4 separate regions of the Homo sapiens genome follow, and regions 2, 3 and 4 are each linked to region 1. The links come from fine-mapping of genetic effects on gene expression. A gene starts in region 1. Each other region holds a variant in brackets. All regions are shown on one strand. Distances are from middle to middle.

Region 1 (8,103 bases):
CTCAGGCAGAAGATGGCCTGGGCCCTCGGAGCCATGGTGGCCCACACAAGTAGGGAAGGAATGACCAGGTACTTTCGGGCCAGTGTCCTTTCCTGGTCCAAAGAGTCATCAAATATTCCTGAGAGGACACTGCAAGGCCTGAGAAAGCACAATTTGCAGATCCAATTTCCAAAGTTGATCAATACCCCCGCCAACCTGCCTGGTGTAATCCGACGACGGGGAGCTGGGAGTCCCACCCCAGACGTGCCGGGGAAGCTGCCAGCTGCCTGCAAACTGCATGAAGCCCCTGCCCAGGCCCTCCCCGTTGGAGCCACAGTAGCTTCAGGGCTGAGCCCAGAGGCTGGGGGGATGCAGGAGGTGTTCTGACCAGTCAGGGCCCAACATACCTGGGCTTAGGATGGGGTTTGCTGAGGGGTAAAAACCTGTGAGGTCCCCAGGTAGCCCTGCTAGACCCTCTGGAGCAACTGAGCCTAGTTAGGGTGGAGAAGGGGCTGGGGGAATGTTTCCCAATCCAGGGTCCCACACAGCAGGAATCCCAGGGAAAGCTCTGGAAATGCAGAGTCATGGAGCTGTGGTGGGAGGTGGGTACCTTGGGCCACCTGCAGGTGGTCAGTAATGCTGGAGGTGTCAGAAGTGGACTCTAGGACAGCTAGGGTCCCAGATCACCACCCATGGCCTTGCGCGCTGGGCGTGCAGCTCCCATCACAGAGGGCACCAGGGGTGAACAGCAGCCGTTGGAGTTTGGCAACGTGGACCCTGCTGGGGCCTGAGGTCTTGACAGCTAAGGACAACCAAACGCAAGGACCTGGACAGTGTCCTCCTCGCCCAAGCTCCATGACTGGCCCTAGTCCCCAGGGAAGCACTTTTCTGAAAGTGGAGTATATACACATTTGGGGTGACACACCCACCAGCAGGAGGGTGTCCTGGGGCTCACATTCATAAGCTGTGACACCCTCATTCCCCCTTCCCCTGACTCTACCATGGCCACAGACATCTGACCCAGGCTGGGCCAGTCAGCCTTTTCCTGGAAATTGGGATGGGAGACTGGGCCTCCATCAGTTGTGTGGACCAGGACAGCAGACAGGGCTGGGGCTAGGTCAGCGCTGAGCAAGGCCCGGCCTTGAGCCAGCCCGAAGCATCAGAGGAGGCCGGGCTCCTGAGAGCACAGCTCAGGGCAGAGAGAGAGGGAAAGAGGCCCAAGCCTGCCAGAGGAGCCAGTGAGCACAGCTTCTGTGCACCCTGGGCCTCCCCTTTGACCACAGCAGGGGTCCCGCTGCCTGACAGCTCCGGGTCCTTTCTCCAGCAAGCCGGGCCCTGCACAGAACTAGAAACCCAGGCACCTCCTGCCCCACCGAGCAGAGCAGCAGGCAACGAACAAGTCAGAGGCCCCCATTGTTCTCCCGGGCTGCACCTTGACCTCAGGTTTTGGTTTTGGTTTTACAGACAGGGTCTCGCTCTGTCACCCAGGCTGGAGCACGGTGGAGCCGTCATAGCCCACTACAATCTCAAACTCCTGGGCTCAAGCAATCATCCTGCCTCAGTCTCCCGAGTAGCTAAGACTACAGGCACATGCCACCGTGCCCAGCTAATTTTCAGATTTTTTTTGTAGAGATGGAGTTTCACTATGTTGCTCAGGCTGGTCTCAAACTCCAGGGCTCAAGCATTCTCTTGCCTCAGCCTCCCAAATGCTGGGATCACAGGCGTGAGCCACAGCACCTGGATGTCGAGACTTTCCCACGGAAGCTGTGATGCAGCTTCTAACTTACACCTTTCTTCCACCCCTGCTCCTGCTTGTCCAAATCTAGTAATTCCCAGGTGGCCCTGCATGGCGTGGCATGTCCCCTCCTTTCAAGAAAATTAATAAAGCCTTCTTTCCCTGGCATGGGCCTCTCTGTGTCACCCCTCAGTCATACTCCTATAAATTAAATCCTAGGAAGCTCATGGCCTGCAATGAGGCACAAGATGTCAATTCCACGGGACCCTCGGCAGCTTGCCGGTGGTATAAAGCCACCACGTGCCAGGCACCACACTAAGAGCTTGCCTCACTGGCTCATGGAATACTAAGAGACAGGTTTTGAGTAGACCTTGTTATTTCACCCACTTTACAGATGAGGAAACTGAGGCTCAGACAAGTTGAAGCCTGTCCAAAGCCAAACAGCTCCTTTGTGATGTAGAAAAGATGCACACAGGAACTCGGGGTAGTGCCAGGACCCTGAAGGCCTGTCTTCAGGGACCACTCACCCAAAAGGGACTGAAGGAGTGGAGGAAGGAGAGAAAGTGCTTACTTACCTAAGGCAGGAACCGCACTGCTGAGTCTCCCGGTGAGAAAGATGTTCACTGTGGGAGATACAAAGAAAGGGTCAGGGGTCCCACATACCTGCTGGGGACCAGCAGCAGCCCATGAGGGACACCACAGCTAAACCCAAGGCTGGCCCGCTGGTCCCCTTCCTCTTACAGGGCAAGGCCCAGAGCGCAGCCCAAGACTGCCCATCAAGAGGGTCCCTACCACCTCACCCCCACCTCCCTGCCTCCATGTTCTGTTATCCAGGCTGGAGTGCATAGCTCACTGCAGCTTCAAACTCCCGAGCTCAAGCAATCCTCCCACCTGAGCCTCCCAAGTAGCTGGAACTACAGGTGTGCACCACTATGCCTGGTTATTTTTTTATTTTTTATTTTTGTAGAGATGAGGTCTCACTGTGTTGCTCAGGCTGGTCTTAAACTCCTGGCCTCCAGCAATTCTCTTGCCTTGGTCTCCCAAAGTGCTGGGATTACAGGCACCTGCCACCGCACCCTGGCCTGCTCCTACAACTTTGAAGGGCTTCCCCCTACCAAGGGGCTTTGCTCGCCCAGCAGCAGCAGAGGCAGGAGGGGAGGCAGTTCTGATAATCCCCATTTACAGGGCACGCAGCTAGTGACGGAACCATCCTCTTCCCCCGTGCCAAGCTGACTTTGAGGAGGAAAGCAGAACTCCCCAGCCACCCCTCAAGCACCCACCTCCGTGGGGTTTGGCCCTTACTTTCACCTTCTGCTCTGGCCCGGGGGGTTACGGGCCCAGAGTCGGGGGGTGGGGGGAAACCCAACTTCCCGGGGTTCAGGATGTGTGTCAGATCCCGCCTGGCCAGGAAGCAGGAACCGCTGCCCCCACCCAGGACACCCAGGCCCCCTGGACAGAGCCAGGCCAAAGCTCCTAAGCATGGAGCGCCTGTCCCCCTGCTCTGCTCACCAGGGATGCCAGCACCCAGCAGCTCAGAGCCCAGCACACATGACCCCGCACTGAGGTTGGGGTGGGCGCGCTGGGGTTACACCCTCAATGCTCCCCAATGGCACATTCCCACTGAGCCAGGCTCACACAGCTGGGGCAAGGGCCTGCCAGAGCCTCGGAGCTCCCTGAGGCCTGGGGGTGATTACTTTGTCATTTCAGTGGCTTCAGCAAACCTGTCAGGTTACAGAGCCCTCACTGGTGACATCACAGGGTGTCCCCTAATGACCCCCAGTTCTTATAATGGCCTCCCTCCTTCATCACAGTAAATAAAGGAGCCATGTGGGTTGGGGATTTAACTCCTCCTCTCGCCTACACAGAGCGCTGGAAAGCTGGACAGAAAAACTCCCGGACAGGGCGGGAGCCCCTCCCACCCCATGCCTGGCCTTGACCGGTCCCTGGCCCAACCCAAGCACCCTCCTAAACTGAACAGGCCTGCCTGGGGGCTGAGAGACACAAAGGGAAAACAGGAGTCCCCTGGAAGCCGCCTCCACACTGGCACCCTCCTCCAGCCCTGCCCCGCACCCCGAGTCCCCATCTGCGGCTTACACCAGCCCCCACCCCAACTCCGGGCCGGAAACAGTTTCTTCTTCAGGGGACAGCCGGCCTGGCCTTTGTCCCCAGCTCCCGGGGCCCCCTCGTCTCCAGGCTCAGCGCGGGCGGGCCGGGTTGAAGGCTGCCGCCTGCACGAAGGGCCTCCTGCCAGCGCTCAGCCCGGGCTCCGGGCGCTACTCCGAGCGGGGCGGGAGCCGGGGCTGCGCCACCAGAGTCGCCCTCCCAGGCCCGGGGCCAGGCGGGCAAGCGGTGCTGGCCCCTCTCTGGGTCTCCGCGCGGGAGCCACCGCGGTGGGGGGCTCGGGATGCCGCGGCCGGAGAGGAGGTCGGTCAGGGCGCGGCGCGGACTGCCATGCGGGGGACCCGGACCTGCCCGGCCCGCGCGGCCCACTCACCCAGACAGACGACGGCCAGCTGCGCCCGGGCGCCCGGCGCGCCCTCCAGCCCCGCGGCCGCGCGCTTCTCCATGCCGGGCCCGGCCGCCCGCGGGCGCCGCCTCCTGCCCCGCGGCTCCGGCTCCGGTTCCGGCTGCGGCTCCGGCTCTGGCTCTGGCTGCGGCTCGGGCTCGGGCTCGGGCTAGGGCTCGGGCTCCGGCTGGCGTGGCTGCTGCGGCCCGGGTGCAGGCGGCGGCTCCCGAGGCGTCTTTGTGCGGTGGCGGTGCAGGCCCGTAGGGCGCGCGCGGCCACATCGGCCGCGGCGTCACGGGCCCTGCGGGGGCTCAGCGGCGGCCGCCAGGGAAGACCCCCGCCCGCCGCTGCCCCCGCGCCCCGGGAGCCCCGCCGCGGCCGGCCTGGGCCCGGGGACCCCCGGCGCGCCCATGCCCCGCGGCGCGCAGCCCGCCCGGCCCCGGCGTCCCCGGGCCGCCCCGCGCTGCGCCCAGCCCGCCCGGCCGGGTGCCGCCGGTAGAGCGTCCGTGGGTCTGTCAGTCCTCCCGCCCGGCCCCTCGCCCGCGCCCGGAGCCTGGAGGCCGCGCTGCGCCAGCCACGTGACGCGCCCGCCGAGCCGCAGTGGCGCTGGCTGGGCGGGCGGAGGCGGCTGGGGCGGGCCGGGGGCGCACGCCCCGCCTCGGGGTGCTGGACAGCTCTGCGCACCAGCCCCGCCCCGCCCGCGCCCCCCGCCGCGCTCCCCGCGCTCCAGCCCAGTGCTCCAGGCAGCCGGTGCTCGCCTGGCCTCCTCCCGGGCCCACGAATTGATCCCTCCTGGAGCCGGCTGTGCTGAGGAGGACCGGGGAGCGAGGACTGGGAAAAGGTGGGAGAGAGAGGACGGCTTAGGGACCTCATAGGGGTGGCACAAGGCTAAGGCCTGTCTTCTTCGCAAGGTGTCCCTGTTCCTGCCCCTCCGCTTCTTTCATTTGCCACAGTCCAAGTGCCCTGTCACGTCTCTAAGAGGAACCCCCTGTGCCAAGCAAGACCTGTCAGGGGACATTGGTGAACACACCAGAGGCCTCTGGAGATCTCCCAGGGCCCCCTGAGCCCACCCTGTTACCCACTATCCTCGTGAGGCTGGGGACTTGGGAGGAGGCCTGCTTCTTAGGCTGGGGGTGCCCTCTGGAGAGCTGCCCACCAAGAGGTTGAGTCCAATGAGGCAAGAACCAGGAGAGACAGGGGGAAGGTTTGAGAAGGCCATTTAGGGCCAAGACGGATGTGAAATCAGAGGTCCCCAAAGGCTCCATGGCACAGCGGGCCCACCAACCTGAGCTGAGGCTCCCAACCCTTTTCTAACACCCCCAGACCCTCATTTGATATTCTCCGTTTATGGAGAGAAGGTTGAGAGAAACTGATGGTCCGTTAGTGAAAGCGTAGACAGTCACTCACTCACTCGCACTGTGCAGGTTGATTGGATTTTAATAAAAAATGGGGGGAAGAAAAATCCTTTTAGTTTTTCTGGGTTTTCTTATTCTCTCTCTTCTAATTCCTTTGGTGATTTTTCCAAAGCAGACTTCTTAGGAAATGTATTAAAGGACGTAAAAATCAAATAACAAGATACATTACAGATTGATGGCATAGAGCACTAGCCTATGTGTAATTTGGTTTCAGAATTTCCTCAGACTGCTGACTGCGGATGAGCAGGCATTTATTTACGCATGGCAAAAATGCTCAACAGAGGCAGGGGCAATGGTAGGGTGGATCTGCGGTTTGTTCGTTTGTTGTTGTTGTTGTTGTTGTTGCTGCTGCTGCTGCTGCTTCTTAGTTTTTTTAGAGACAGTCTCACTTTTTCACCCAGGCTAGAGTGCAGAGCTGCAACCATAGCTCACTGTACCCTCAAACTCCTGGGCTCAAGCAATCCTCCCACCTCAGCCTCCCAAGTAGGTGGGATGACAGGTGTGCACCACCATGTCAGGCTAATTTTTTCATTTTTTTGTAGAGACAAGGTCTTGCTCTGTTGCCCAGGCTGGAGTGCAGTGGTGTGATCACGGCTCACTGCAACCTCAAACTCCTGGACTCAAGGGATCCTCTTGCCTCAGCCTCCCAAAGTGCTGGAGTTACAGACAGGACCCACCACACCTGGCCAAAATATGCGGTTTTGTTGAAGATGCTGCCTGCTTCAATGCATGTTTTGCACGTTATGTAAGGAATCTAGGGTCCAGACCAATGACCAATATGGGAATCATGTTGGAGCCTGAAGCAAAAGAAAAATGTGAGCCCCTAGACACACTTATCAAAATATCCTCCCATATTTTGAACCAAGTGGAAAGGCTAAGAAAAGCTCTACAATCACATGACTATATCTAAATCTCCATGCTCCCCAATCTATGCACATCCCATTGTGAACCCTCATAAACCCATAAGGCAAGAAACGGCCAAGGTACCCAGGAACCTTGGGCTGATTGGAAACAACTGTCCCCATTGCACACACACAAAAAATTTGCATTAAAGTTGATTTATCTTCATTATTGAGTTTTTTGGCACTTCCTTCAATTCTGTGCCCAAGGTGAGTGCCTCACTGCCCTATCCTACTCCCGGCCCATATTGAGACCCCGGCCCATAACTGACACCCCATTTCCCGTTTGTCTCATGATGGTCTAGTGCCCCCTAGAGGTTGCTGTGCCAGGCAAGACCCTTGCTGGGGGTCCCCAATGCAGCTCTGGCCCAGTCCTCTCCCCCACCGCCCTCTCACCACATCTGGAAAGGTTCCTGGTATTCCTGTCTCTGCTTCAACACTCTTCCACGCTAGCTGCAATCGCCTGGGTCTCTCCACCTCTGAAACCTTTTCGTAAACCTCCCTCATTGACTCAAGCTATATCCAGAACGTGTCTATTCATCACAACCCAAAAGCTTCTAACCATTGGAGAATTCAGTACTGGGAAGGAGATGGTGGGCATGGACCCAGAATATGGGAACTGACTGGCTGGGGCAGGTGAGGGAGCAGTGGTGGGGCAGAGGGCTCAGACATGAGAGCAGGGGCTTCCTGGCAAGAAGCTGGCCTTCCCAGTTAGGAGGAAGCAAAGCTGCTGTCACAGTCACTGTGGGCCAGTGACGCCTTCAGGAATCTGCTGCAGGAGTGAGGAGCCACAGGACATGCAGAGAGGAGACGGAAGGGACACAGAGGCATCCCATGTAAGTCCCCACTCCATCCCATACGAGAGGGCCACCACCATTGCCCACTCATCAGCCACATACCCCGAGCCCTCGTGGGACACAGAAGAAACCAATGACACAGGAGAGTCCCACATCCTCCCCCAACATTCACCCACAGGCAGATGCAAACTCAAGCGCTCTCTTATCCAGTTGCTTACCAGACACTAATGAAGAGGACTCTGTGTTGAATGGTCAGTGTCTTTCCTGATTTCAAATAACTAGAACCAGCCAGGCACAGTGGCTTACACTTGTAATCCCAGCACTTTGGGAGGCCGAGGTGGGCAGATCACTTGAGGCCAGGATTCGAGACCAGCCTGGGCAACACAGCAAGACCCTGGCTCTACAAAAAAAAAAATTTTAATGTGCTGGGTGTGGTGGTATGCATCTGTAGTCTGAGCTACTCAGGAAGCTGAGGTGGGAGGATTGCTTGAGCCCAGGAGTTTGAGGCTGCGATGAGCCATGATCGCACACTGCACTCCAGCCTGGGCAACAGAGTGAGATTCTGTCTCAAAAACAACAACAACAAAAATCCTACAATCTATTTGAAGGTCAAAGGCCAAAAGTGGCTTTGGCAAATAAAACTGAAAAAAATTGTTTTATGATCACCTTTATGCCCAAGTTTATCACAGGTGACTTCCAAGAGGGCAAACCTCTCATTATTCTAGCTGAGCCATAGACCAGACACCCCTCACCCCCACATCTGCCCCTTCTC
Region 2 (8,103 bases), 43 kb after region 1:
TAGAAAAATAATAATAGAGACAGTGTTTCGCTATGTTACCCAGGCTGCTCTCAAACTCCTAGGCTCTAGTGGTCCACCTGCCTTGGCCTCCCAAAGTAGTGCTGGGATTACAGGCGTGAGCCACGGCACTGGGCCAACCACACCAAGGTGGACATTTTGAGCTGGGTCACTCAGAGTTGTGGGGGCCGTCCTGTGTTCTGTAGGAGGTGGAGCAGCATCCCTGGCCTCTCCTGGCTAGATGCCAGGAACCCCCACACCCAGTTGTGACAACAAAACATGAGTCCAGACATTGTCAAATGTCCACTGGGGCACAAATTGCCCTCATTTGGGAAGATTCTGCAGTATTCCCTTGGCGCTGGAGGGAAAAGCAGCTGGTGTCAGGAGTGATTGATTGACAGACAGCCTTTGGGGCTTGGTGCTGGGTGGCGCTTACACAGAGGCTCTCTCCTGCTCCCCATCTTTCCCCCAACAATGTCAGGCGTGGTCTCCCCCTGTTCCACCCCTCTCTTACTTACTCCTCTGCTTCTCCACCCCAACTATTCACTCTCCCTTTTTCTCACTCCTATCCTCATTTGTCTTCAGTGCTATTCAAGTATATTTCAGTGTTGTATATTTAATTAATAAAATTGTGGGTTATTTGGCTGGGTGCAGTGGCTCATGCCTATAATCCCAGCACTTTGGGAGGCCTAGGTGGAAGGATTGCTTGAGCCCAGGATTTTGACACCAGCCTGGGCAACATAGCAAGACCCCATCTCTACAAAAAATATAAAAATTAGCTGGGCATGGTGGCACATGCCTGTAGTCCCAGCTACTCTGGAGGCTGAGGCAGGAGAATCACTTGAACCCAGGAGGTGGAGGTTGCAGTGAGCCAAGATTGTGCCATTGCACTCCAGCCTGGGCAACAGTGCAAGACTCTATCTCAGAAAAAAAATGAAGTTATTCATTCCAATTTTTAAGCATCTTCTTTTTCAGAAAAATAATAATAATAAAAAGCCTGTCTGTATTTTGCCACTTTTTGTTTGTAACCCTCAATGTCTTTCTCCTGTGATTCTCACCTCCTCTTGTAAGCAGAGTTTTCTCTGAGTAGCCTGGATCATAAAATCAATCATTTGACCTGAAGAAAAGGTTGAGCAAAACAATTTTCTAGAGCTCAGATCAGAGTTTTGGAACCCATTTTGGTTCTTTGAAAGGCACAAACTGAGCAACGCCAAAGGAGAAGAAATGTCAACTTCGCAGGGCCATCCGGGATAAACCTCACCAATTCCCAGTGCCTGGTGAGCTAAGAACCATGCTGGCATATCATGGAGGTTTGACTGCAAGCTCTCCCAGCAGCCAGACACTGTCATTGAGGTTTAAACCAGAGGTATACCCAGAGGATTATAAATCATTCTTCTATAAATACACATGCACACGTATGTTTATTGCAGCATTATTCACAATAGCAAAGACTTCGTGTCAACCCAAATGCCCATCAATGATAGACCGGATAAAGAAAATGTGGTACATATACACCATGGAATACTATGCAGCCATGAGAAAGAATGAGATCATGTCCTTTGCAGGGACATCATCCTCAGCAAACTAACACAGGAACAGAAGACCAAACACCACACGTTCTCATTCATAAGTGGGAGTTGAACAGTGAGAACACATAGACACAGGGAGGGGAACATCACACACTGAGGCCTGTCAGGGGGTGGGAGGCAAGTGGAGGGAGAGCATTAGGGCAAATACCTAACACATGCGGGGCTTAAAACCTAGATGACGTGTTGATAGATGCAGCAAACCACCGTGGCACATGTGTACCTATGTAACAAACCTGCACATTCTGCACATGTGTCCTGGAACTTAAAGTAAAAAAAAAGACATAGCAATTTCTAAATAAATAAATACATAAATAAATAAATAAATAAACCAGAGGTATCTCTATGGACTCTCATTTCACATAAATCCCACTTCTCGTAGAAGGCCATTTCACCTGTACAGAAGTTTGGGGAAAATGGCTATGCTGCACGTACAGTTCTGGACAAGATGGAGTCAACTTTAAAAGTAATTTTTTTAAATGGCTGAAATTTTACCAAATTTGGCAAAATATATAAACCTACAGATTCAAGAATCTGAGTAAAACCCAACAGGATAAATCCAAAGAAATCTACACCCAGACACATAATTACACTTCAGAAAACTAAGGACAACAAAAATATCTTCAGAGCAGCAAGAGAGAAATGACTTTTTACCTATAGGAGAAAAACAATATGAATGACAGTGTAAATGAAAACCACAGTGTGGCCAGGCACTGTGGCTCATGCCTGTAATCCCAGCACTTTGGGAGGCCGAGGTGGGTGGATCACAAGGTCAGGAGTTTGAGACCAGCCTGGCCAATGTGGTGAAACCCTGTCTCTACTAAAAATACAAAAATTAGTTGGGCATGGTGGCGGGCGCCTGTAGTCCCACCTACTCGGGAGGCTGAGGCAGGAGAATTGCTTGAACCCGGGAGGCGGAGGTTGCAGCGAGCCGAGATTGCACCCTGCAAATGATATAGCTGATCTTGCTAGAGGATTTAAAAAATTCATAATGTCGGTCGGGCTATATCATTTTCAGTTCTCAGTGCAAAATTAATAAGCAAGATCCCCACTCCTGAAAAAGCTAAGCACAGTATTACCATATGATCCAACAATTCCACTCCTGGGTATACAGAGTAAAGAATTAAAAACAGGCCAGGTGCAGTGGCTCACACCTGTCATCCCAGAACTTTGGGAGGCCAAAGTGAGAGGATCACTTGAGCTCAGAAGTTCAGGACTAGCTTGGGAGACATAATGAGACCCCGTTTCTGCAAAAAAAAAAAAAAAACAAACTTAAAAATTAGCCAGGCATGGTGGTGTGCACCTGTAGTCTCAGCTACTCAGGAAGTTGAGGCAAGAGGATCACTTGAGCCTAGGAATCCGAGGCTCCAGTGAGCTATGATCACGTCACTGCACTCCAGCCTGGGCAACAGAGCAAGACTCTGTCTCGAAATCAAATAAAATAAAAAGAATTGAAAGCAGGAACTCAAAGTTACATGTACATGTGTTCATAGCAGCATTATTCCCAATAACTAAAAGGTAGAAACAGCCTAAGAGGTCATCAACAGATGAACAGATAAACAAAATGTGGTATGTACACCTATAATGCAGTACTATTCAGTCATCAAAAGGAATGAAGTTCTTAATCCCAGCACTGTGGGAGGCCGAGGTGGGTGGATGACAAGGTCAGGAGTTTGAGACCAGCCTGGCCAACATGATGAAACCCCGTCTCTACTAATAATACAGAAATTAGCCAGGTGTGGTGGTGGGCGCCTGTAATCCCAGCTACTCAGGAGGCTGAAGCAGGAGAATCACTTGAACCCAGGAGGCAGAGGTTGCAGTGAGCCAAGATGGCACCACTGCACTCCAGCCTGGGGGACATAGCGAGACTAAGTCTCAAAGGAAAAAAAAGGAATGAAGTTCTGATGTTCTGATGCAGGCTACAACACAGATGAACCTTGAGGACATTATTTTAAGTGAAATAACCTAATCACAAGAGGACAAATAATGTATGACTCTACTTATATGAAATATCTAGAATAGGCAGATTCATAGAGACAGAAAGTAGAATAAACATTACCCAGGGCTGGGGGCATGGGGAATGGGGAGTTATTGCTTAACGGGTAAGAGCTTCTGTCTGAGATGATGAAATCATTTTGGAAATAAATAGTGGTGATGGT[T/C]GCACAACACTGTGAATGTAATGAATGGCAGAGAATTGCACACTTAAAAATGGTTAAAATATCATGTTTTATGTTGTGTGCGTGTATATATATATATATATATTTTGAGACAGAGTCTCACTCTGTCACCTAGGCTGGAGTGCAGTGGCACAATCTTGGCTCACTGCAACCTCCACCTCCCGGATTCAAGCTATTCTCCTTCCTCAGCCTCCTGAATAGCTGGGATTACAGGTGCCCGCCACCACGCCCAGCTAAGTTTTGTATTTTTACTAGAGGTGGGGTTTCACTATGTTGACCAGGCTGGTCTCGAACTCCTGACCTCAGGTGATCCGCCCCACTCGGCCTCCCAAAGTGCTGGGATTACAGGCATGAGCCACCGAGCCCAGCCCCAAAATTTTTTTAAATGATAATGTAATATCTCCAAAACGACTGAATTCACTTTATTTATTTATTTTTTTTAGACAGGGTCTTACTTCATTGTCCAGGCTGGGGTGCAGTGGTGCAATCATAGCTCACAGCAGCCTCAAACTCCTAGGCTCAAGCAATCCTCCAGCCTCAGCCTCCTGAGTAGCTGGGACTACAGGTGTGTGACACCACACCCAGCTAATTTTTAAATTTTTTGTAGAGATGGGGTCTTGTGACATTGCCCAGGCTGGTGTTGAACTCCTGGCCTGAAGTGATCCTCCCACTTTGGCCTCCCAAAGCTCTGGGATTATAGCCATGAGCCACACGCCCAGCCAGACCTTCCCATTTTACAGGAGATGCTGGAACTTCACCTTTTGTGGACTTCTCTGCACAATGATTTCCACTAGTGGCTCACATTGAAACAAATGCATCTGAGGCCCAGCCCAGCCCACAGGCCACAGCTGATGGCTCCCTCCTGCCTGCCTGTCCCCAGCCTCCTCAGAGCACCTATGACCAAGCTACAGACGTGTCCACATGGATGCTGGCTTATGTGGAATTCAGGAAGTCATGAATGGGGACGCCCCACCCAAACTCCCTTCTGGCCTCCTGGGGTCCAACTCACTTAGTGATGGTGAGCAGCGTGGCCTGGGATGTAACATCCCAGATCTTGATGCACCTGTCCAATGAGACAGAAGCCACCCTCTGGCTGTCGGGGTCAAAGCAGCATGACGTGATGGACCTTGTGTGATGATCTGCAGAACACGGAGGAAAGGGACTTGAGACCACGCCTTCCACCTGCTGGGCTGGAGGACTCCCACGACTTCCCCAGCCAGTGACGATTACAAAACACAATTCCAGTTTTCATCAGGAGCTACACACCTGCACAAACATTCCTGAGTGACTACTATGTCCCAGGCTTTGAACCGGGAGCACAGCAGGTTCCCTGCCCCCGCAGAGCTGCCAGTCTGATGGAGGAGACACCCCGGACCAGGCAACGACCTGCCACATGCCACAGATCATGAGATGAGTGCACGGGCCACCAAGGCCCAGACAACATAAGCCTGGCCACCCTGAGGGGTCCAGGAAGGGCCCGAAAAGCCAGCAAGGGAAGCAGAAATGGAAGAGCACTCCAGGAAGAAGGAACAGTGCTTGCAAAGGCCTGGGCCGGATCATGGAGCAGTGTGGGGCAAAGCTGGAGTCTGAAGCATGGTGGGGTCAGAGTGTCAAGTGGGCTCTTAGGGGCTATTAGGGAAGCTGTGGGGCAGTGCACATGGCATAGTGCCACATCGATAAAAAGAAACACAAAGCACATATGAGAAGCAGTGTTGTGTGTGCAAACACTTGTACGCACAGGCATACACACAGGGTTCAGGAAGACTGCCCAGCAATGTATGGTTCATAACAGGTGCCTCTGGGGAGGAGACAGGACAGACACAGCAGCCTTTTGCTTTTTTATTTACATAATGAATGATTTTTTTATTTTTGAGACAGGGCCTCATTCTGTCACCTGGGCTGGAGCGCAGAGGCGCGATTTCGGCTCACTGCAACCTCCACCTCCTGGGTTCCAGCAATTCTGCCTCAGCCTCCCGAGTAGCTGGGATTACAGGTGCCCGCCACCACGCCCGGCTAATTTTTGTATTTTTAGTAGAGACAGGGTTTCACCATGTTGGCCAGGCTGGTCTTGAACTTTTGAGCTCAGGTGATCCACCAGCCTCGGCCTCCCAAAGTGCTGGGATTACAGGCATGAGCCACCACGCCCAGCCCATAATGAATGTCTTTACAATGATTACACATTTTTTTAACTTTAATTTTAAGATAATTGTAAACTCCCATGGAGGTGTAAGGAATAACAGAGAAATCACCCATGTCCTTCACCCAGCAGCCCCCATGGGAACATGTGGTATCATCATCACACAGTGTCCCAACCAGGAAACTGTCATACAACAATTACTAAGTCCTATATTTTAAAAATAGGCTGGGCACAGTGGCTCATGCCCGTAATCCCAGCACTTTGGGAGACCAAGGCGGGCAGATCACCTGAGGTCAGGAGCTCGAGACCAGCCTGCCCAACATGGTGAAACCCCATCTCTACTAAAAATACAAAAATTAGCTGGGCGTGGTGGTGGGTGCCTGTAATCCCAGCTACTCAGAAGGCTGAGGCAAGGAGAATTGCTTGAACCCAGGAAGTGGAGGTTGAGGTGACCCGAGATCGCACCACTACACTCCAGCCTAGGAGACAGAGCAAGACTCCATCTCAAAAAAGAAAAAAAAAAAAGATACAGGTAGGCCGGGTGAGGGGGCTTCTCCTATAATCCCTCACTTTGGGAGGCTGAGGCAGGAGGATCCCTCGAGGCCAGGAGTTTGACATCAGCCTGGGCAACATAGCAAGACTCTGTTAATGTTAACTCTGTTAATGTTAATGTTAAGAAGCCTGAGCCTCCCCTCAATAAAAGATTAGGCTGTCAATGACCACATGAGGTTGGAGCCGAACATTGTGTCCTTTGTTAAAAGCACAAGACTGAATGAATGGAAAAGCATTAACTGAAGAGGATCAGTTTTGGTGTGTTTTTTTGTTTGTTTGTTTGTTTTTTGTTTGTTTGTTTGTTTTTTTGAGATGGAGTCTCACTCTGTCTGCCAGGCTGGAGTCCAGTGGCTCAATCTCAGCTCAATACAATCTCCACCTCCGGGTTCAAGTGATTCTCCCGTTTCAGCCTCTCAAGCAGCTGGGACTACAGGTGCATGCCATCACACCTGGCTAATTTTTGTATTGTTTTTGGTAGTGACAGGGTTTCACCCTGTTGCCCAGGCTGGTCTCAAACTCCTGGGCTCAAGCAACCTCCCAAAGTGCTGGGATTACAGATGCAATCCCAGCCACCGCACCTAGCCTAGTGTCCCAGCTTTAATGACGTGCTTCATACCATTACAGTTTCACCAAATAAAGCAATGGAAGGTCACCGTCAGTCAGTGACAAGTGGCTATTCCTATGGCAGACTGAAGATACAGGGAGCCCGCACACCCTCACCTTTGATGACGGAAACGGTGGTGATGTTCTCGGCGTCCATTATGCAGATTCCATGATCCACGTCGAAGCCTGAGACCACGTATTTACCATCAGGAGAAAACTTACAGGAGACGATGAAGGTATCATACCTGACCTTCCACTGAAATGAGCCAGCAATCAAAAGGTTGTTTTAAGCCAGGTGTGGTGTGTTACACCTGTAAACCCAGTGCTTTGGGAGGCCAAGGCTGGAGGATCGCTTGAGACCAGGAGCCTGAGACTAGCCTGGGAAACATGCAAGATCTCCATCTCTACAAAAGTAAAACATGAGCCAGGTGTGGCGGTGCTCGCCTGTAGTCCCAGCTACTTATGAGGCTGTGGCGGGAGGATCATCTGAGCCCAGGAGTTTGAGGCTGCAGTGAGCTACGATGGCGCCACTGTGTTCCAGCCTGGGTGACAGAGCTTGCAAGACCCTGTCTCTAAAAATCATCATCATCGTCATCATAAAATAAAAACTTGGCTTATCTTGTCTTTCTAAAAATGTTTACAATGAATACAAACTGACCTTTGCACTAACAAGAAAGGTTGTTTTTTAAGGAAAGGAAGGAGGAAGGGACAGAAAAGGCCTGCAGGAGCTGAGAGGGAGGGACGGCAGGGGTGAGGCAGGAGACCCCGAGGAGGCCCCTGAGCAGAGCTGAGGGTGCCTGGAAGGGGTGCAGGGCCGAGTGGGAGTCTTGAGCCTGTGGGATGGACGGAGAGTGACCCCCTCCAAGATATAAAGAGAACAGACTGGTAAGGGCCAGAACCCTGGTTCTTGGGGGCACATGGCCTTTGTCCCATGGCCTCAGCCCCACTTCCTGTCTAATCAAATCCAAACATCTTACCGGGGAGCCTGGAATACCAGCCCCCACACCCCACCCCCAATTCTGGCTTCTTTCTGTGTATCCAAACCCATCCC
Region 3 (8,103 bases), 33 kb after region 1:
AAACATAATTTTTTTTTTTTTTTTTTTGAGACAGAGTTTCGCTCTTGTCACCCAGGCTGGAGGGCCATGGCTTGATCTCGTGATCTCGGCTCACTGCAACCTCTGCCTCCCGGGTTCAAGCAATTCTCCTGCCTCAGCCTCCCGAGTAGCTGGGATTACAGGCACCTGCCACCACGCCCGGCTAAGTTTTGTATTTTTAGTAAAGACGGGGCTTCACCACGTTGGCCAGGCTGGTCTCGGACTCCTGACCTCAGGTGATCCACCCGCCTCGGCCTCCCAAAGTGCTGGGATTACAGGCGTGAGCCACTTCACCTGGCCAATATTTTTATATTTTTCTCAAACATATTTGTTTAATTTGCCCTACTGTTAATTACTACTAATTGTCGCTGTTCACTAGTCCTGTTGTTTTGCTTAAATAATAATATTCATGGAACAAAAAAGTAAAAAATATAAAATAATGTATAATTTCAAGTAAACCTTTACTTCTTATTTTTATATTAAAGTAGTAACATATAGGCATATAATCTTTTGCTATATATTGTATTATTATGGGTTTGTTGTTTTTTTTTTCTGATATGTTTGTATTCCAAGTTGGCTCTCTGAAAAGTTGATCATGCTAGGCAGCGCCTCTCCCACAGTCTCCTGGATTTAGAAACCTCTAGCCTAGAACATGACATGCTCAAATAAAGGGGTCCCCGACCCCCCAGTCTGTGGCCTGTTAGGAAATGGGCCACACAGCAGGAGGTGAGCAGGGGTGAAGCTTCATCTGTATATATAGCTGCTCCCTGTCACTAGCTTTACCACCTGAGCTCCACCTCCTGTCAGATCAGTGGCCACATTAGATTCTCACAGGAGCACGAAGGCTATTGTGAACTGTGCATGCAAGGGATCTAGGCTGTGTGCTCCTTATGAGAATCTAATGCCTGATGATCTGTCACTGTCTCCCATCACCCCCAGATGGGACCATCTAGTTGCAGGAAAACAAGCTCAGGGCTCCCACTGATTCTACATAATGGTGGGTTGTATAATTATTTCATAATATATTACAATGTAATAATAATAAAGTGCACAATAAATGTAATGCTCTTGCACCATCCCAAAACCATCCCCCGCCCCCCAACCATGGAATAATTGTCTTCCACGAAACTGGTCCCTGGTGCCAAAAAGGTTGGGGACTGCTGCTCTAATATGGGTGGAGGGCGGAGTAGGTCCCCACTTCTCCGGGGTTCACACCTGCAGGACAGCTGTTGGGATATCCTGGGCTGGCTGCTATGTGCCAGTGGAATGGGAATCTCAAGATGCAGTGCTGCAGGAAAGGGAGACCCCCCCGGACCTTGGGCAGTGTCAAAGGCTTATCCATGAGTTGATGCTTTCCCTTCAAGTCCCCCATTGGCTCCATTGCTCACTGATCCAGCCAGACTCTTTTTCCAACAAAGTTCAAATGTCAACGGTACAGACACAGAAATACCTGGAAACTCCAAACTCATCGCGTTTGCGCATAGAAGGACATGCTGTCCACATTCCCAGGCAGCTCCGTGAACACGATGGCCCGGTCAGGTACAGCTCACCGAACCCACCCAGGAATTTTATACTTGGCAATAACTCTTCCACTATCACCAATCCTGGCGAACGTGATCGATATTGTAAGCTTGACCACTTTTACCTTGGAAGCAGACAGGATCCATTTCTTGTTGTTGCTAATGGCAACATCCATCACCCAGTCATTATGGCCCTGAAGAAATATCAAATTTTAATGAAAACGTGGAGAAAATAATTTTGAAAGAACAACAAAAACAAGCTGGGTGTAGTGGCTCACACCTGTAACCTGCCTTTTGGGAAGCCGAGTCGGGAGGGTCACCTGAGCCCAGGAGGTGGAAGCTGCAGTGAGCCATGATTGCACCACTGCACTTCAGCCTGGGCAACAGAGTGAGGTCCCATATCTAAAAAAACAACAAAAAGTCAAGAACCCAGTGTTGCTTACATTTAAGAGTAGCTGGCTGAGTGCAGTGGCTCATGCCTGTAATCTCAGTACTCTGGGAGGTTGAGGTGGACAGATTGCTTGAGTCTAGGAGTTTGAGACCAGCCCGGGCAACATAGTGAAACCCCATCTCTACTAAAAATACAAAATATTAGCCGAGCATGGTGGCATGCGCCTGTAATCCCAACTACTCAGGAGGCTAAGGTGGGAGAGTCACCGGAGCCCGGGGAGGTTGAGGCTGCAGTGAGTCATGATCATGCACTCCAGCCTGGGCAACAGAGTGAGACTGTCTCAAAAAAAAAAAAAAAAGGAAAGAGCAGAGCAGCTCATTGTACTTCCTCGGTTTCATCAACAACATTTAGGGTGGAATACAAAGTGTAAAGACATGTGATATATGTACATTCTATTTTTTTTGTTGTTGTTGTTTTTTGGGGTTTGTTTGTTTGTTTGTTTTGAGACAGAGTTTTGCTCTTGTCGCCCAGGCTGGAGTGCAATGGTGCAATCTCCACTCACTGCAACCTTCACCTCCTGGGTTCAAGCAATTATCCAGCCTCAGCCTGCCAAGTAGCTGGGATTACAGGTGCCCATCACCATGCCCAGCTAATTTTTTTTTTTTTTGAGACGGAGTCTCGCTCTGTCACCCAGGCTGGAGTGCAGTGGTGTGATCTCGGCTCACTGCAAGCTCCGCCTCCCAAGTTCACGCCATTCTCCTGCCTCAGCCTCCCGAGTAGCTGGGACTACAGGCGCCCGCCACCACACCCGGCTAATTTTTTGTATTTTTAGTAGAGACGGGGTTTCACTGTGTTAGCCAGGATGGTCTCGATCTTCTGACTTCGTGATCTGCCTGCCTCGGCCTCCCAAAGTGCTGGGATTACAGGCGTGAGCCACCACACCCCACCTAATGTTTGTATTTTTAATAGAGATGGAGTTTCACCATGTTGGCCAGGCTGGTCTCGAACTCCTGACCTCAAGTGATCCACCTGCCTCAGCCTCACAAAGTGCTGGGATTACAGGCATGAGCCACTGCGCCCTACCCATTCTATATTTATTTATTTAGTTATTTTTATTTGACACAGGGTCTTACTCTGTCCCCCAGGCTGGAGTGTAGCAGCTCAATCATAGCTCACTGCAGCCTCAACCTCCTGGGCTCAAGTGATTCTCCTGCCTCAGCCTCCCGAGTAGCTGGGACTACAAATGTGTGTGCCACTGTGTATGGTTTTTTAAAATAGTACTCGGGTGTTTAGCAAGATTGGGGGAGAAATATTATATTCCCAGCTGGTCTCAGGTTTTCATTTGCATTCTTTGTTCTAGGAAATACCCCTCAGAGGCCCTGTAAGTGAGGGGGCTTTTCGCTTCCAATAACTGCAAACTCGATCCACTGTGGCTTAAGCAGAGAAGGAGTGGGGTGTTTTCTTTGGGTACATAGGAGCTCAGAGCAGGCCGGGCGCGGTGCTCCATGCCTGTAATGCCAGCACTTTGGGAGGCCGAGGCGGATAGATCACGAGGTCAGGAGATCGAGACCAGCCTGGCTAACATGGTGAAACACCATCTCTACTAAAAAATAAAAATTTAAAAAAAAAAAATTAGCCGGGCATGGTGGTGGGCACCTGTAGTCCCAGCTACTCAGGAGGCTGAGGTAGGAGAATGGTGTGAACCCAGGAGGCGGAACTTGCAGTGAGCCAAGATCATGCCACTGCACTCTAGCCTGGGCGACAGAGCGAGACTCCCGTCTCAAAAAAAAACAAACAAAAAAAACAGCTCAGAGCAGATAGCTGCCATTGCTGCCTCAGACACTGAATGATGTCTGGGCTTTATGCCAGCATCTCTGTCCTTCTTTGGCCTTCCCCGTATGGAAAGAGGCAGAAAGTGAGGCCATAGTGTGGTTAGAGAAAAAGGAATCAGAGGGAAGGTTAAACCGCTTAGTGTAATTAAAGGACAGGAATTTGAGGATGGGAGCACAGAGAAAGAGGAGAGAAGAGGAGAGAGAATAGAACAACCGGCTCTGTCACCCAGGCTGGAGTCCAGTGGTGCAATCTCAGCTCACTGCAGCCTCTGCCTCCCAGGCTCTAGAGATTCTTATGCCTCAGCCTCCCAAGTAGCTGGGACTACAGGTGGGCATGACCACACCTGGCTAATTTTTGTATTTTTAGTAGAGATGGTGTTTCACTATGTTGGCCAGGCTGGTCTCGAACTCCTGACCTCCAATGATCCTCCAGCCTCAGCCTCCCAAAGTGCTGGGATTACAGGCATGAGCCACTGTGCCTAGATGACAGAGGGACTTTAAGCACAGAGAGGTTTAACATTCCATTTTAATCCGTTTATTTGCTGTGAGGAAACTCGCTTTGTCTCCCCAAGTCCTAGGAGAAGACAGCTCAGATAGACCAGCCCCAGGGACCTGAATATGGGCTGCTCAAGGACACATGTCTACTTTGTGTCCCTGGGAACAGAAAGACCAAGAATCAGGGATGCACGCATTCACAGCCAAAGGTGACAGTGAGAT[C/T]GTGAAACCAGGGAGTATGCAGAAATCCTGGGGTGTGGGGCCCCTTGGGGGAACAGGGGCACAGCATGAGGCAATTGTGGGTTCTTGCTGTGTTGGATAACACATCCCCGTATCATAGAGCCACTCTGAGTTGGGGCTCCTCTCATCCTCTCACTTGTAGCCCAGAGCATTCAGTTGACATCCCCATTTTGGAACCCCAAGCTTTCTGTGCATGCCTCACTAGGGCATGCGTCTCTCTTCAAGGTAATTTCTGTTTTTTGTTTTGTTTTGTTTTGTTAGAGACAGAATCTCAGTCTATCGCCCAGGCTGGAGTGCAGTGGCACAATCTTGGCCCAGTGCAACCTCCGCCTCCCGGGTTCAAGCGATCCTCCCACCTCAGCCTCCCAAGTAGCTGGGACTACAGGTTTGCACCACCACACCCGGCTGATTTTTGTATTTTTAGTAGAGACGGGGGTTTCACCATGTTGGCCAGGCTGGTCTCAAACTCCTGACCTCAGGTGATCCGCCCACCTCAGCCTCCCAAAGTACTGGGATTACAGGAGTGAGCCACAGTGCCCAGGCCTGCACAGTAACTTCTGCTGTTCTTAGACACTCCCACCTCAGGGTTTTTGCATCAGCTGTTCCATCTGCCTGGACTGCCCTTCTTCTTCAAGATCCCCACTTATGTAGTCCTTTCTGTTCTCAGCTCAAACACCTCCTTCTCCAGGAAGCTCTGCCCATGCAATGTGGATGGGTCCCCCGCCTCTGTCCCCATCATGTCACCCTGTTGTGGTTTCTCCATTTCACTCCTCACAGTCGGTGGTGTGTTTGCTGGCTTCCTGTCTGTCCTTCATCAGCCCACAGAGGCATCAAGGCCTGTGTCACTCACAGCTGTGTCCCCAGCAACCAGCATTGAGCACAGGAAGGACTCGGGAGGGAAGTTCAGATCCTCAATCTCATGCTGGCCACATGTACCTTCAAAGAGAGCTTCCGGTAGCCTTCTGCTACATCCCAAATAGCCACAGTCCTATCAAACCCTCCAGAAATGAGAAAAGAGCCTGCAACAGAAAATGAAAGGGTGGAGATGGGGGTCAACTTTCCAAGCCAAGTGAGCCCAAAGCCAGCTGAAGATGCCTTGGCGAGGCACCACCTCATCTCACTCTGACAACACTGAAACCCCTTCCTGGAGTGGCTCCACGACCCCAAGCCAATTACAGCTGATTCTTATCATTTACAGTAGTCATGTTCTATGACAGGGGTCCCCAGTCCCTGGGCCACAGACTGGTACCAATCCATGGCCTGTTGGGAACCAGGCCACCCAGCAGACAGTGAGTGGTAGGCAAGCAAGCCAAAGCTTCATCTGTATTTACAGCCACTCCCCATCGCTCGTATTACCACCTGAGCTCGGCCTCCTGTCAGATCAGCTGCAGCATTCGATTCTCACGGGAGCATGAACCCTATTGTGAACTGCGGATGCGAGGGATTAGGTTGTGCACTCTTTATGAGAATCTAATGCCTGATGATCTGTCACTGTCTCCCATCACCCCCAGATGGGACCATCTAGTTGCAGGAAAACAAGCTCAGGGCTCCCACTGATTCTACATGATGCTGACTTGTATAATTATTTCACTATATATTACAATGTAATAATAATAAAAATAAAGGGCACAATAAATGTAATACACTTGGGTCATCCCGAAACCATCCTCCACAGCTCCCATTTGTGGAAAAGTTGTCTTCCATGAAACCTGTCCCTGGCGCCAGAAAGGTTGGGGGCCTCTGCAGTTTTTGCAGACACTGAATTAGTGAATACTGAACCATCGCTCCTAGGGGAAATACAGGGTCAGTTTCCTGCGAGCTCTGGTCACATTCTCATCAGTTGATCAGTACGTAACTTTGTTTTATGTGTGTTTCTGTTTAAAGACACCTTATTGCATATATACTGTTGATTTGTTTACATTGAACTCACAACCAACAGCTGTAACTCATGCCTGAATGGATGCATGCATTTTCCCCATCATAGCACTCTCGCGCTTAGGAACGGCAAACAGCACTTCGGCACTGTGGTTAGGGATCATTTTATTTGTTATTTATTTATTTATTTATTTATTTATTTATTTATTTATTTATTTATTTTTAGAGATAAGGTCTTGCTCTGTCACCCAGGCTAGAGTGCAGTGATGCAATCAGCTCACAGCAGCTTCAAACTCCTGGTCTCAAGCAATCCTCCCACTTCAGTTACCAAGTAGCTGGGACTACAAGCAGGTGCCAGCACACCTGGCTAAATTTTTTTTTTTTGTTTTGGTAGAGATGGGGTCTCACTATGTTGCCCAGGCTGATCTCAAACTCCTGGGTTCAAGCAATACTCCCGCCTCAGCACCCCCCCAGCACTGAAATTAAAGCTGTGAGCCACCACACACGGCCAAGGGAGCCATTTTACACAGCAAAATCACTAACAAAAAGCAAAAGAAAGCCCAGGTGTGGTGGCTCACGTCTGTAATCCCAGCACTTTGGGAGGCTGAGGCAGGCAGATCACATGAGGACAGGAGTTCAAGACCAGCCTGGACAACATGGCGAAACCCCATCTCTACCAAAAATACAAAAATTAGCCAGGCATGGTAGTGCGCACCTGTAATCCAAGCTACTTGGAAGGCTGAAGCAGGAGAATCGCTTGAACCCAGGAGGCAGAGGTTGCAGTGAGCCAAGATCGCGCAACTGCGCTCCAGCCTGGGCAACAGAGGGAGCAAAACAAACAAACAACAACAAAAAAAAATGGTGGCACTAAATAGACCACAAAAAGGACATTTTACCACGTGGGAGGTGAAACAAGAAGGCAGAGTGTTGCCTTGTCCAACCTCAGCTGGGAGGTGACTTAGATTTTTTGCTGCTCTTCACATCTGTGAGTGACCTTGAAAGTGCCATGAATGTTGACTTTAGGTTTACAAATAAATATCAGCAAGTAGGTGACTTCACAAATACAGAATCAGGAATAATAATGATTAACTGCATGTGATTCTTTTTTTTTTCTTTCTTTTTTTCTTTTTTTGAGACAGAGTCTCACTCCGTCACCCAGGCTAGAGTGTAGGAGCGCAGTGGCACAATTTTGGCTCAACTGCATGTGATTCTGAACCCCATAAAGCCAAGGACAGAAGCTGGCAGGGTGCCTCACAGTGGGACTTAGACAAGGGGTGCTGCTGAAGAGGGAAAGTTGCCCAGAAGCACCCTAGTGCTTCTCAAGCCAGGCCCCAGTGGCATGTGTGCCAGCTGAGGCCCCCAGACACACAGAGCAAGCCCCACTTCTCACCAGGATAGGGGAGCATATGTTTGGCTCCTGAGTGTCAAGAGCACCCACTTCCCTCCCTGGAGCTGGCTAGCCGCGGTGGCTTCCTGTCACTGCCCCCATTCACCTCTATGTCCCTTTATCTGGCAACAGCTCCCAATTTCCTGTGGGGAAACACTCCTTGCCTACTCTTAGTCCCTCTGCATCAGGGGGTTCTGACCCCAACCCTAGCTCTGCAGGTGGGCAAGTCACCCAGACCTGGCCAATCAGAGGCTTTCGTTGCCCCCTAAGTGATTCATTAAGAGATGGACATGTGTCCCAAGCTGAGCCAATGGGAGTCTTCCCTGGGACTTGTTCTGGCACCAT
Region 4 (8,099 bases), 220 kb after region 1:
TTCAAGTGATTCTTCTGCCTCAGCTCCTGAGTAGCTGGGATTACAGGTGTGCACCACCACACCTGGCTGATTTTTGTATTTTTAGTAGAGATGGGGTTTCACCATGTTGGCCACGATGGTCTTGAACTCCTGGCCTCAAGTGATCTGCCCAACTCAGCCTCCCAAAATGTTGGGATTACAGGTGTAAGACACTGTGCCCGGCCCCTCTTAGGGTTTATATTAGGAACAATGTCCTCAACTATTGCAGCGATATATTGTATGCCTAATTTTAGTGCCAGAACATAGTAGACCATCAATAAACATGTGGCGAACTAAACAATCTCAATGTTAGGCAAACCTTAGAAGCCGGTGATAGCCCATGTGGAAGTCTTCAGAAAGCAAGCTTCCTTAGATTTCCAGTTTGAATCCTACATGATTCTTGGAAAGTTAATAGTAGAGAGTGTTTAATGGTACAAAGTTTCAGCTGAGGAAGATGAAAAAGTTTTAGAGATGGATGGTGGCAGTGGAGCATAATGATGTGAATGTAATTAATGCCACCGAACTCTACACTTGAAAATGATAAAAATGGCACTCCAGCCTGGGCGACAGAGCGAGACTCCATCTTAAAAAAAAAAAAAAAAAGGAAAAAGAAAAAAAAGAAAAAAAGAAAATCAGGTGTAGAATAGTGTAGTATATTCCTTTTAAGAAAATGAATGGTAATATACTTAGGTACATATAGAAATACTTGTACATCATCTCTAGAAGTATAACATGGAGGGCCTTAGAAGCCCAGGTGACAGGGAGACCTATTGCTCACTGCATACTCTTTTTTTTTTTTTCCCTTCCCTTGCCCTCTTCCATTCCCTTCTCCTCTTCCCTTTCCTTCCCCTCTTCCCTTCCTTTCCCCTCTTCCCTTCCCCCCGCCCCCCCCCTTTTTTTTTATTTTGAGACAGAGGTCTCACTCTGTCGCCCAGGCTGGAGTGCAGTGGCACAATCACAGCTCACTATAGCCTCAACCTCCTGGGCTCAAGCAATCTTCCCCTCTAAGCCTCCCAGGTAGCTGGGACTGTAGTTGTGAGCCACCGCGCCCCACCCTGTACTTTCATATTCGTGACCATGAGTATTATTACTTTCTCAAATAGAAGAAGAACCTTAAAATATGAGTTGTGGCTCCTAAGCTTAAATTGTTACTATTGAGTACATTCCTTAAAAATTATCCTTGTTGGGCCGGGCGTGGTGGCTCACGCTTATAATTCCAGCACTTTGGGAGGCCAAGACGGGCGGATCACGAGGTCAGGAGATCGAGAAGGGGTGAAACCCCGTCTCTACTAAAAATACAAAAAATTAGCCAGGTGTGGTGGCGGGTGTCTGTAGTCCCAGCTACTCAGAGAGGCTGAGGCAGGAGAATGGCGTGAACCCGGGAGGCGGAGCTTACAGTGAGCCGAGATCGTACCACTACACTCCAGCCTGGGCGACAGAGTGAGACTCTGTCTTAAAAAACAAAAACAAAAAACAAACAAAAAATTATCCTTGTTGGACCTGGTGGTGCACACCTAGAGCCCCAGCTACTCAGGAGGCCAAGGCAGGAAGATCGCTTGAGCCCAGGAGTTTAAGACCAGCCTGGGCAACATAGCAAGACCCTGTCTCAAAAAAGAAAAAAAGTTTGTCCTTGTTTTAAGAACCTAATTCTATATAAGCATTGGTCACCTGAGTTTCCGAATTATGTCTGTTCAATTTATTTTTTGGAGACAGAATCCTGCTCTGTCACCCAGGTTGGAGTGCAGTGGTGTGATCTCAGCTCACTGCAACCTCCACCTCCTGGGTTCAAGTGATTCTTGTGCCCAGGCTCCAAGCAGCTGGGACTACAGACATCCACCACCACACCTGGTTAATTTTTGTATTTTAGTAGAGATGGGGTTTCACCATGTTGGCCAGGCTGGTCTTGAACTCCTGACCTCAAGTGATCCGCCTTCCTCGGCCTCCCAAACTGTTGGGATTACAGGTGTGAGCCACCGCGCCTGGCCAAACTTCGTAGTTTTTATCATCTATCTTGATGATGCCTGACGCCCTTTTTCTTACTTTTCTATGTGCAGCATAATAAGAGTGCCACATACTCCGTGGGAATGCAGAAAACGTACTCCATGATCTGCTTAGCCATTGATGATGACGACAAAACTGATAAAACCAAGAAAATCTCCAAGAAGCTTTCCTTCCTGAGTTGGGGCACCAACAAGAACAGACAGAAGTCAGCCAGCACCTTGTGCCTCCCATCGGTCGGGGCTGCACGGCCTCAGGTCAAGAAGAAGCTGCCCTCCCCTTTCAGCCTTCTCAACTCAGACAGTTCTTGGTACTAATGTGAGGAAACAAACATGTTCAGGCCCTGAACATTTCCGGTGCTGACTCGGCCTTAAACGTTTGTGCCATAATGGAAAATATCTATCTATCTGTTCTCAAATCCTGTTTTTCTCATAGTGTAAACTCACATTTGATGTGTTTTTATGAAGGAAAGTAACCAAGAAACCTCTAGGAATTAGTGAAAAAAGAACTTTTTTGAGGTGTGTTACTATACTGCTGTAAGTTATTTATTATATAAAGTATTGTAAATAGAATAGTGTTGAAGATATGAAATATGGCTATTTTTAATGGTGACAATTATGACTTTTAGTCACTATTAAATTGGGGTTACCTATATCAGTACAATTTGTAGTTGTTTCCAGGTTTGGCTAATAATCATTCCTTAACCTAGAATTCAGATGATCCTGGAATTAAGGCAGGTCAGAGGACTGTAATGATAGAATTAAATTAGTGTCACTAAAAACTGTCCCAAAGTGCTGCTTCCTAATAGGAATTCATTAACCTAAAACAAGATGTTACTATTATATCGATAGACTATGAATGCTATTTCTAGAAAAAGTCTAGTGCCAAATTTGTCTTATTAAATAAAAACAATGTAGGAGCAGCTTTTCTTCTAGTTTGATGTCATTTAAGAATTACTAACACAGTGGCAGTGTTAGATGAAGATGCTGTCTACAAGGTAGATAATATACTGTTTGATACTCAAAACATTTTTCATTTTGTTTAAAGTAGAAGTTACATAATTCTATATTTTAAGTCTTGGGTAAAAAAGTAGTTTTACATTTTATAAAGTAAAGATGTAAATGATTCAGGTTTAAAGCTCTATTTGACTTCCTTTTTTTGTTTGAGATAGCGTCTTGCTGTGTTGCCCAGGCTGGAGTGCAGTGGTGTGATCTCAGCTCAGTGCAACCTCCGCCCCCTGGGATCAAGCGATTCTCCTACCTCAGCCTCCCAAATAGCTGGGACTACAAGGTGCCCTCCAGCATGCCTGGCTGATTTTTGTATTTTTAGTTGAGGTGAGGTTTCACCATGTTGGCCAGGCGGGTTTCGAAATCCTGACCTCAAATGATCCACCCACCTCAGCCTCCCAAAGTGCTGGGATTACAGGCATGAGCCACCACAACCGTCCCACTATTTTACTTTTTAAAATGACATTCCTACTGATTGATTTTTATCTTGCTATAAGTTCGATGACACCGTGAATCTAATAAGGTTCACTGTTGACACAGTACAAGTTACATAGCTAAAATACATAGCATTGAAGACTAATTTTAAGGATTGACAAGAGTTTATTTTCTATTGTGCAATATCTTAAAGGAAGCAACCACCTTTGGGAAAGTGTATCTGCTGCTCCTAGGGCCATGCTTGTATACATATTTAAATAAACATATTCATTTACCCGAGTTAATATTTCTTTTTACTTTTATTTCATTTTCATTCCCTCCTCTTTCAAATTGTTTCTCCCCAATGCACACAGTTTCTAATGTTCTGATTTTTTTAGTTACTAACATTTCACAAAGCAGAACTTAAAAAGCTGTCAAGTTATCTTAGTATTTTCTAAGACAGATGGTATCTTTGTGCTTATTTTTTGTTTTTGTCTTTTTTTCAAGACAGGGTCTCGCTTTGTCACCCAGGCAGGAGGACAGTGGCGCAATTGTGGCTCATGGCAGCCTCAACCTTCCGGGCTCAAGCAATCCTCCCACCTCACCCTCCTGAGTAGCTGGGACTACAGGCATGAGCCACCATGCCTGGCTAATTTTTTTGATTTTTTTGTAGAGATGGGGTCTTGCCATGTTGCCCAGGCTGATCTCGAAATCCTGGACTCAAGCAATCCTCCCACCTCAGCCTCCCAAAGTGCTGGGACTACAGGTGTGAGCCACTGTGCCTGGCCTGTGTCTATTTTTTGAATGGGCAATTTGTACCTTTTGATCCCCAGCCCCTGCTTCCCTCACTAGATGCAGCTGCTGCCATCATTTTCTTGTATCCTTCCATTGTTGGGCCTTTCATATACAAACACAGCCTGTTCTGCCTCATGCATGTTGAGTTTTCAACTTTAAATTTTTTTTTTTTTTTTTTGAGATGGAGTCTCACTCTGTCATCCAGGCTGGAGTGCAGTGGTGCAATCTCGGCCCATTGCAACCTCCACCTCCTGGGTTCAAGCGATTCTCGTGCCTCAGTCTCCTGAGTAGTTGGGATTACAGGTGTGTGCCACCACACCCAGCTAATTTTTGTATTTTTAGTAGAGACAGGGCTTCACCATGTCGGCCAGGATGGTCTGGATCTCCTGACCTTGTGATTCACCCCCCTTGGCCTCCCAAAGTGCTGGGATTACAGGTGTGAGCCACTATGCCCGGCCGTTGAGTTTTCAACTTTAAGTGGGAACTTCAGACTTCATACTTTCTGTGTGCAGAAGACATATGCAGTGATTATAAACAAACTGTACATCTGCCAAAAAAAAAGGCCGGGGGGAGGGAGGAACAAAGGAAAGGA[G/T]GAAGGAACTGTTGCGCAGTTATTTATTTACATTGGAAACAGCCCTCGCAGTACGGGTATATGAAGGCCAGACCTGATGAACAGCAGGTGAAACTCTGGGAACCCAGGGCTTAGGATACACAGTGCTTCCTTGTACATTTGTTTCCTTCAGATGGTCACATCCACCACTGAAGCTTTTTAGAAGGCACTTTCCATGACAGATGCAGGTCAAGGTCGCACATTAAAATCGGCCCTAATGCTTTTTGCTGAGTGTGAGTCCCTGACTCTCTTGCGAAGATCCCACCAGCCCTTTTCGTCTTAGCAGAATGAAGGCAGTGCCCTCTGCGGCCCACTAACTTCACAAGCTGAACTCAGACGCTAAGGCAGGACGACCCACGGGCTCCATTCAAGCCTCGCCTCATCTTTCACTGGTTGCTGCTGGAGAAAATCCTTTTTCTTTTTTTTTTTTTTTTGTTGTTTTCTTTGAGACGGAGTCTCGCTCTGGTGCCCAGGCTGGAGTGCAGTGGCACGATCTCAGCTCACTGCAACCTCCGCCTCCCGGGTTCAAGTGATTCTCATGCCTCGGCCTCCCAAGTAGCTGGGATTACAGGCACCTGTCACCATGCCTGGCTAATTGTTCCTATTTTTAGGGGTTTCTCCATGTTGGCCAGGCTGGTCTTGAACTCCTGACCTCAGATGATCCGCTGTCTTCGGCCTCCCAAAGTGCTGAGATTAGAGGCGTGAGCCAGTGCACCCGGCCCATTCTCTTGGTTTTTAAAGCTGAAAACAAGATCCTGGTGTTTGTGGTCTCAGGAGAAGATGCCGTGGCCCTGAGGCCAGCCCTCACCTGGGCTGCGTGAAGAAGGCATGGATCTGCTGTGCCACTGCTTGTCCGACCACCTGCTCCAGTTCCCCAATGGAAGCATTACTCAGTTGCTGGATGCTTGGAAACTTCTGGAGGAGAAGGGGAGCTTTAACTTTTCCAACTCCTGGGATCTGCTGCACGGTTCGAAGGAGCGAAGGCTCAGACAGCAGCAGGGCCCGTTTCTTCCCGAGAAGAGGGTTCTTACTGGGCTCTTTGGTTTGCTCTTGAACCTGAACCACAATGAAAGCAACAGCACGTGAGCGCCCTCTGGAGGACTGGCCGTTTTCTTAAAATATGTTTTGTAGAAATTGCGTTTTTCCATTTGGCTCAGCTTGACTTAAGGGAACAAATGTTTTCATGTATCATGAATATAATTTCTCAGACATCAGTAAAATTATTGAAAGGTGAACCACACAAAGGAGTTAAGACATTAATTTACAAAAATGTGCGTTTTCAGAATGTTTAGAAAAACACACAGATGAATTCAAACACTTTCTGTTGGTCCATTAAGAAACATTTCAGTTGTGCAGGATTAAATGATGGCTACACCTAAACTAGGCCTACTTCACGCAGGAGCTGCAGGAAGCCTGCCTCAAAGGAGAAACCTGGTCTAGTTAGTGGTGGTTATACTAAGGCAGACAACAGTGTTATATCAAGGAAAGTTAGGAACGGTGACGCAAGGGATATAGTAGAGAGGGATCTGTGAACCATTCATGGCTGCTTGCATCTTCAATGTGGCTCTCAACTCTAGCTCCACATCAGAGGGGGTGATTTAAAAACAACACACACATAACAAAGAAAACAAAAGTGAAAAAAACAAACAACACACACACACAATTGATGTTCCCCATGCTGGGATCAGAGGCGTAAGCTACTAAACTGATTTTAAAAATAAGTGTTGGCGGCCGGGCGCGATGGCTCACGACTGTAATCCCAGCACTTTGGGAGGCTGAGGCGGGCACAACACCTGAGGTCGGGAGTTCGAGACCAGCCTGACCAACATGGAGAAACCCCGTCTTTACTAAGAATACAAATTAGCTGGGCGTGGTGGCGGGCACCTGTAATTCCAGCTACTCGGGAGGCTGAGGCAGGAGAATCACTTGAACTCAGGAGGAGGAGGTTGCAGTGAGCCGAGACTGCATCATTGCACTCCAACCTGAGCAACAAGAGCGAAACTCCATCTCAAAAAAAAAAAAAAAAGTGTTGGTTGGTGCGGTGGCCCAGAACTTTGGGAGGCTGAGGCAGGCAGATCACCTGAGGTCAGGAGTTTGAGACTAGCCTGGCCAACATGGTGAAACTCTTATCTCTACTAAAAATACAAAAATTAGCCGGGCATGGTGGTGGGTGCCTGTAATCCCAGGTACTAGGGAGGCTGAGGCAGGAGAATCGCTTGAACCCAGGAGGCAAAGGTTGCAGTAAGCCAAGATTGCACCACTGCACTCCAGCTGGAATGACAGAGCAAGACCCTATCTAAAAAAAAAAAAAAACTGCCCAGGCATGGTGGCTCACACCTGTAATCCCAGCACTTTGGGAGGCCAAGGTGGGCGGATCATGAGGTCAGGAGTTTGAGACCAGCCTGGCCAATATGGTGAAACCCTGTCTACTAAAAATACAAAAATTAGCCGGGTGTGGTGGTGCGTGCCTGTAGTCCCAGCTACTCGGGAGGCTGAGGCAGAAGAATGGCTTGAACCCGGGAGGTGGAGATGGCAGTGAGCCAAGATTGTACCACTGCACTCTGGCCTGTAGGACAGAGCGAGACTCCGCCTCAAAAAAAAGGGAAAAAAAAAAAACTTGCACAAGGTGCTGATGCTTAACAAAAATACGGGATGAGACAAAGCAGCTTCTAGTTAACATTTTCTTTCTTTCTTTCTTTTTTTGAGACAAAGTTTCGCTCCTGTTGCTCAGGCTGGAGTGCAATGGAGCATCTCCACTCACTGCAACCTCCACCTCCTCAGTTCAGGTGATTCTCCTGCCTCAGCCTCCGGAGTAGCTGGGATTACATGCACCCACCACCACGCCCAGCTAATTTTTGTATTTTTAGTAGAGACAGGGTTTTGCCATGTTGGCCAGGCTGGTCTCGAACTGCTGGCCTCAAGTGATCCTCCCGCCTCCGCCTCCCAAAGTGCTGGGATTACAAGCATGAGCCATCACGCCTGGCCTCTAGGTTGACGTTTTCACCAGCGAAAGGGCAGGATAATGACTGATGGAGCCATCACACCCTGAGAATCTAAAATCAGGTCTCCAACTTGTATACTTTGTGATACACTTGCCTGGAGTGTGTGACAAGCTGAGCTGGCTGCAGAGGCAGCTTCCGCATTTAAATTCCTCGAAGAGATTTTATAAACCAAGTCAGAGAATGACATAGATTGGATTGATGGTTGCTTCTGGAGAGCAGCTGAGTGTCCATGAGGACAGGACTACCACGAAGGTG

Evidence for each region.
Region 2: its variant is fine-mapped to the expression of LRP3 in blood mononuclear cells (TOPMed, PIP above 0.99). The same link has a PIP of 0.9 or more in whole blood.
Region 3: its variant is fine-mapped to the expression of LRP3 in whole blood (INTERVAL, PIP 0.93).
Region 4: its variant is fine-mapped to the expression of LRP3 in whole blood (TOPMed, PIP above 0.99).

The regions. Positions count from the first base shown.
Region 1 is chr19:33,190,964-33,199,066 of GRCh38, reverse strand. It overlaps LRP3 (LDL receptor related protein 3), which reads right to left and starts at 4,737. Exons shown (of 7, transcript NM_002333.4): 1 at 4,209-4,737; 2 at 2,290-2,337. The coding sequence starts at 4,281. RefSeq lists enhancers at 133-302, 1,464-1,523.
Region 2 is chr19:33,147,977-33,156,079 of GRCh38, reverse strand. It overlaps WDR88 (WD repeat domain 88), which reads right to left. Exons shown (of 11, transcript NM_173479.4): 5 at 7,170-7,308; 6 at 4,770-4,899. Among named protein-coding and RNA genes, the nearest start is that of WDR88, 20 kb to the right of the region's middle. RefSeq lists cis regulatory regions at 4,713, 7,965 and enhancers at 4,629-4,798, 7,881-8,050. The variant T/C (reference allele first, on the strand shown) is at 3,743.
Region 3 is chr19:33,157,826-33,165,928 of GRCh38, reverse strand. WDR88 (WD repeat domain 88) reads right to left here. Exons shown (of 11, transcript NM_173479.4): 8 at 5,433-5,515; 9 at 1,664-1,732. It overlaps LOC124904691 (a long non-coding RNA gene), which reads left to right. Exons shown (of 2, transcript XR_007067228.1): 2 at 5,274-6,158. Among named protein-coding and RNA genes, the nearest start is that of TRT-AGT1-3, 15 kb to the left of the region's middle. RefSeq lists a cis regulatory region at 4,588 and enhancers at 4,504-4,673, 5,017-5,426. The variant C/T (reference allele first, on the strand shown) is at 4,479.
Region 4 is chr19:32,974,230-32,982,328 of GRCh38, reverse strand. It overlaps FAAP24 (FA core complex associated protein 24), which reads right to left. Exons shown (of 5, transcript NM_152266.5): 5 at 4,100-5,898. The coding sequence ends at 5,647. It overlaps RHPN2 (rhophilin Rho GTPase binding protein 2), which reads left to right. Exons shown (of 15, transcript NM_033103.5): 15 at 2,073-3,737. The coding sequence ends at 2,333. Among named protein-coding and RNA genes, the nearest start is that of FAAP24, 6.0 kb to the right of the region's middle. The variant G/T (reference allele first, on the strand shown) is at 4,825.